2 separate regions of the Homo sapiens genome follow, and region 2 is linked to region 1. Evidence: fine-mapped expression QTL. A gene starts in region 1. The other region holds a variant in brackets. All regions are shown on one strand. Distances are from middle to middle. Region 1 holds the start of RPS26 (ribosomal protein S26). Region 2 overlaps ESYT1 (extended synaptotagmin 1).

Region 1 (2,756 bases):
GACTAGGCTGGTCTTGAACTCCTGACCTCAGGTGATCCGCCTGCCTTGGCCTCCCAAAGTGTTGGGATTACAGGCGTGAGCCACTGCACCCAGCCTAAGGCTTAAGTCTTTCCGATGGCTCTTCAGAGGTAAATGGAGCTTACACATAATCTTTCAATTAGGGGTCAGATTCACTAATGAGTGGTGAAATAATTTTCGTGGTTTTTGATCAGCATTTATTAAAATAGAGAACAGAAAGATTAAGTAAAAATAAAGAATAGAACATACCAGCACACCTATGACAAGGGTAAGTATCGTTTCATAAAGCTTGTGTTTCAGTTTTGCATGTGCATGTAATCGTGTTTGTGTGTGTACTGGGTACCAATGTAAAATGTATTCGTGCTATGAATCTGGGTGAAAAACGTTTAAGTCATTAGTCCAGGCTATTCCTCCATCCATTTGTTAGGTGACATACAGCATAGTACAGCGGAGCCAGAATACCTACTGCACGTCAGTTCTTCAATCTTTTTTTTTAATTGATTTATTTATTTTTGAGACAGAGTTTCGATCTTTTTACCCAGGCTAGAGTGCAGTGGCGCGATCTCGGCTCACTGGAAACTCCGCCTCCCAGGTTCAAGATTCTCCTGTCTTAGCCTCCTGAGTACCTGGGATTACAGGCGCCCACCACCAGGCCGGGCTAAATTCTTCAATCTTTAAAGTGAGGATAATAATAGTAGCTACCTATAGGCTTGCTCAAAGTTAAATGAGTTAATATTTATAAAGACGCTTACCACAGGGCCAGGCACTGTGCCAGAGATAAAAAGATGAATGAGAAATAGCCCCAGCCTCAATGCACTTCATTGTGGGATTTTCTCCATATTGGAAGGAGGGATTCACAAAATGCTTGTTTCCTCTCAGGCCTTCCTCTTCGTAATCCTACACCTACCTAGTAGAAGGACTGTCAGAGAAATGAGCCCAGGGCGTCCCCCGGTGGCGCAGCGCCGCCTTCGGTCTAAGCACTTGGGGCAGGGGGGAAGGGGGGGAGGGGGGAGCCTCTTGGCTTCGCACTACAATTCCCACCAAGCATCTGTCCCTCTCTGGCCTCTAATAACGAGTGCGCCTTGTGGTCCAGCGTCTGGCAACTTTCACGCCTAGCGTCGCGTATACCGGAAAACTGCATCGTCCAGAATTGCTTCCGAGTCGGCGCGGCGCAAGGCTTGCTGGGAGACACATAACCTCGATTTTCTTCCGCCATCCGGCTAAATAGTCCCATGTGCACTTTGTTCCATGGATAAATAAACACTAGGAACGCATTTCCACCCTAGATTTCAGCAGAAATGCTGAATGTAAAGGAATATTTGAGTAAAGTGAGTTGCCGTTCTTGAAGCCCGTCTCCTAAGGATTCTCCCGGTGTCCGCGTAGGGATCTCATGCTATATAGGAGGGCCCTGCCAGGCACCGTCTCCTCTCTCCGGTCCGTGCCTCCAAGATGGTGAGTCTTCTTGCGTGGTGAGGGTGGGGGTTCGGGTGCAGACTCTGGGATTGTGGGGAAGTGAGAGCCTGGAGCACGGCTGAGGGGTGGACCGAGTGTACATTTCATTTGCTCTGGGGGTCGGCGGGATTTGCGGAGAAACAGGAGATCCGAGCGGCGCCTTCCTGGAGGCTGCCGGTGCGGCTTGTGGCCGGAAAGGGACTGAGGCTGGGTGAGTTGCGCCGTTTTCCTAACAGTTTTCCCATCCTGTCGCAGACAAAGAAAAGAAGGAACAATGGTCGTGCCAAAAAGGGCCGCGGCCACGTGCAGCCTATTCGCTGCACTAACTGTGCCCGATGCGTGCCCAAGGACAAGGCCATTAAGAAATTCGTCATTCGAAACATAGTGGAGGCCGCAGCAGTCAGGGACATTTCTGAAGCGAGCGTCTTCGATGGTAAGTGGGTCACCGGCGCGAACTGTGTGAGGATCCCAGTATCTTAAAGCCTTCGCCCAACTTCGCCCTTTTGGAGGCTCTGTTCTTTGGAGCCTCTCAGGCAATTTCCACGTATTTAAGGTTGTTACTGGTAGAAGAGAATTCTCTTGTTTGCCGTTTTGATTCTTTTCTGGGCAGAGGGTGACTTTGTGATAGAGTGCACAGCCTTTACTCTGAGGTAAAGGTTTGCCTGTTTCGGTTATGAGATTGCAAAAACTAGAAACTTGGTAAATTTGACAATTCTTGTGCTATTGATTATTTGAATATTTGTGAAAATATACAGGTGAGGAAGAATGTCTTCAACGTTTCGAGAATGGAGGCCGTCTAGTTTGGTGTGCAAGGATGATGTTTGGAGCAATAAGAACGTCGCTTTGTTTTTTTCCTTTTATAGAAAGAGCAAGGTTCAGGGTAGGCATTAGGGCGGGTGTAGGTGTAGAAGGAACTGGATTATTGGTTTATTGCATTTAGAATGTCAGTCTGGTCCTTGCGGTGTCAAGATGAACTCACGTGGGATGTTAATTCACTTGTAAAACTGAGGGTTATACATATGTGCTCAGGTATTGGGCTGAACAGGTGCTTTGGGGGTGCTTTTATGTGCCCGACAGGCATTTAAATAGGTTTAGTTTTAATTGACGTAAACATGTAAGGTGCTCTTCATTCATGTAACAAAAAAGCAAGGTAGGTATATAATACCAGTATAACTCTATTTTCTATTCCTTAGCCTATGTGCTTCCCAAGCTGTATGTGAAGCTACATTACTGTGTGAGTTGTGCAATTCACAGCAAAGTAGTCAGGAATCGATCTCGTGAAGCCC
Region 2 (3,024 bases), 98 kb after region 1:
GGCCGCCTGCACTTGCGCCTGGAGCGTCTCACCCCCCGTCCCACTGCTGCTGAGTTAGAGGAGGTAGGGCAGGAGACTTGAGGAAGGAAGGGACCCAAGGTGGGGCAGGATGAGCTCTTCTCTTAGCGTTCAAGGCACATGCCAGAACCCAAGGTGTCAGTTACCACTCCCCAGCCCCGTGTGCCCCTCCACAGGTGCTGCAGGTGAATAGTTTGATCCAGACTCAGAAGAGTGCGGAGCTGGCTGCGGCCCTGCTATCCATCTATATGGAGCGGGCAGAGGACCTCCCGGTGAGATCCCGCTCCCCATGCCCCATAACTTCCTGGCCCTTCTTCCACCTTCCTCCGGTTTGGATGGTCCTGGAGTATTTAGAATAAGAAAAATGGCCCCTCTCTTTCTGAGGGTAGTGCAGGGGTGGGAAAAGTTGTCTGTTCAAGGCCACGGGTAGTGGCTGCCAAGTAATAATGGAGACATGGCTGCTGGCTGTGGATATAATTTGTGAGGGGGATCTGCCTAACTAGGTCCAAATTTAAGACTAACACAGTATTGTCTTTCTAGCTGCGAAAAGGCACCAAGCACCTCAGCCCTTATGCTACTCTCACTGTGGGAGATAGTTCTCATAAAACCAAGGTATGAAGAAATGCTGCAGGGTAAAAATGGGAGGGATAAGAGAAATAAGAGTATCAGCTACTGATCATAAGCCCTCATCTCCACCAGACTATTTCGCAAACTTCAGCCCCTGTCTGGGATGAGAGTGCCTCCTTTCTCATCAGGAAACCACACACTGAGAGCCTAGAGTTGCAGGTACTGTAAATTCATTCTTCAAATATTTAGCAGATTTCTGCCATGGCCAGGCAGGAAACCAGGCACAGAGCATTCAGAGATGAGATAAAAGGTTGACTTTTTTTTTTTTTTTTGAGACAGAGTCTTGCTCTGTCGCCCAGGCTGGAGTGCAGTGGTGCTATCTTGGCTCACTGCAAGCTCCGCCTCCTGGGTTCACACCATTCTCCTGCCTCAGCCTCCCAAGTAGCTGGGACTACAGGTGCCCGCCACCACACCTGGCTAATTTTTGCATTTTTTTTAGTAGAGATGGAGTTTCACCATGTTAGCCAGGCTGGTCTCGAACTCCTGACCTCAGGTGATCCGCCCACCTCGGCCTCCCAAAGTGCTGGAAATACAGGTGTGAGCCACCGCACCCGGCCAAAAGATTGACTTCTTATCTTTATGGAGCTCACACTCTGTTTTGGGAGAAAAATAACCAGATGAAACTTTCAGAATGATAACTGAGGTAAAAGGCACTGTGGGGAAGAAAGGAAGGGTTCAGGCTGGGGAAAGGCTGGAGATAGAAAGGCATCCTTAGATGACCCC[T/TG]GAGCTTGAGGGTAGATTTTTTTTTTTTTTTTTTGAGACTAGAGTCTCACTCTTATTGCCCAGGCTAGAGTGCAGTGGCGCAATCTCAGCTCACTGCAACCTCAGCCTTCCAGGTTCAAGCGATTCTCCTGCCTCAGCCTCCCGCGTACCTGGGATTACATGCGCGTGCCACCATACCCCACCAATTTTTAGTAGAGACGGGGTTTTGCCATGTTGGCCAGGCTGGTCTTGAACTCCTGACCTCAGGTTATCCATCCACCTCAGCCTCCCAAAGTGCTGGGATTATAGGTGTGAGCCACTGCACCCGGCCTTTTTTTTTTTAGACAGGGTCTTACTCTGTCGCCCAGGCTGGAGTGCCGTGGTGCAATCAGGGCTCACTACAGCCTCAACTCTTGGGCTCTAGCAATCCTCCTACCTCAGCTGGGATAACAGGTGCACACTACCACACCTAGCTAATTTTTGTATTTTTTTGTGGAGATGAGGTTTTACCATGTCATCCAGGCTGGTCTCGAACTCCTGGACTCAAGCATTCTGCCCGCCTCGGCATCCCAAAGTGCTGGGATTACAAGCGTGAGAACCGCGCCCCAGCCTAAGGGTAGATTTACTGGTTCTTTCGGACCACGAAAAGAAGAGCAGGAAAACTCTTTAGGCTGAGAAAAAAAATGGAGGAGAGAGAAGGCATATTTATTATAGATCAGAGAGGCAGGCAGAGCAAGATCATAGGAGCTGTTGAATAGTATGCTAGAAATATGGATTTTATCCTAAGGCTTAGGGAAGCCTTTGTTTATTTTATTTATTATTTTTTTGAAACAGAGTCTTGCTCTGTTGCCCAGGCTGGAGTACAGTGATACGATCTCAGCTCACTGCAACCTCCCTCCTGGGTTCAATCGATTCTCCTGCCTCAGCCTCCCGAGTAGATGGGATTATAGGTGCCCGCCACCACGCCCAGCTAATTTTTGTATTTTTAAGAGAGACGGGGTTTCACCATGTTGGTCAGGCTGGTCTCTAAGTCCTGACCTCAAGTGATCCACTGCCTCGGCCTCCCAAAGTGCTGGAATTACAGGCGTCAGCCACCACACCCAGTCAGGGAAGCCTTTAATGAGAGGTCACATATCCAGATTTGCATTTTGGGAAGATCATAGGGATAAGAGGGTAAAGAATGGACTGGAGAGGGACAACACTGGGGGCAGGGAGATCAGTGAGGAGACTGTTAGAGCAGTCAAAGCAGGAAACGACTAAAGCCTGATGGGATTTGAAGATTGCTGTGATATGGAGCAGGTGGAGGAGCAAGGAACAGCCTAGACACTAACTCTGGGGTTTTTGGCACAGGGTGGCTAGATGGATAAGGGTGCCGTTGCTGACTTAGGGAGTGCACAGAGAGGGAATTTTGGAATTTGAGATCTCTGCAGGACATCCAAGAGAAGACATGCAGAAAACAAATCTATTGTCCATGAGGTGTTCCTCCCTTGCCCTCTTATTGGAACATCATGAGCAAGCAACCACTCATAAGTGTAGTCATGGGTGAGATCTCTTAGGCAGCGTGGAGAGTGAGGAGACAAAAGATGGCCATGAGCCATCTTACAGGTGTGAACCACTGTGCCCGGCTGAAATTAATAGAATTTAAAATAATGTAACTTAATGCTAGCAGAGTAGAAA

The links. PIP is the estimated chance that this variant, and not a neighbour inherited with it, causes the effect.
Region 2: its variant is the best candidate, but not a certain one, in a credible set for the expression of RPS26 in breast (GTEx, PIP 0.63).

Annotation. Positions count from the first base shown.
Region 1 is chr12:56,040,700-56,043,455 of GRCh38, forward strand. It overlaps RPS26 (ribosomal protein S26), which reads left to right and starts at 1,219. Exons shown (of 4, transcript NM_001029.5): 1 at 1,219-1,470; 2 at 1,726-1,903; 3 at 2,664-2,756. The coding sequence starts at 1,468. RefSeq lists enhancers at 940-1,729, 1,178-1,507, 1,648-1,907 and a silencer at 968-1,027.
Region 2 is chr12:56,138,210-56,141,233 of GRCh38, forward strand. ESYT1 (extended synaptotagmin 1) reads left to right here. Exons shown (of 31, transcript NM_015292.3): 21 at 1-63; 22 at 195-290; 23 at 559-630; 24 at 718-804. Among named protein-coding and RNA genes, the nearest start is that of ESYT1, 11 kb to the left of the region's middle. The variant T/TG (reference allele first, on the strand shown) is at 1,369.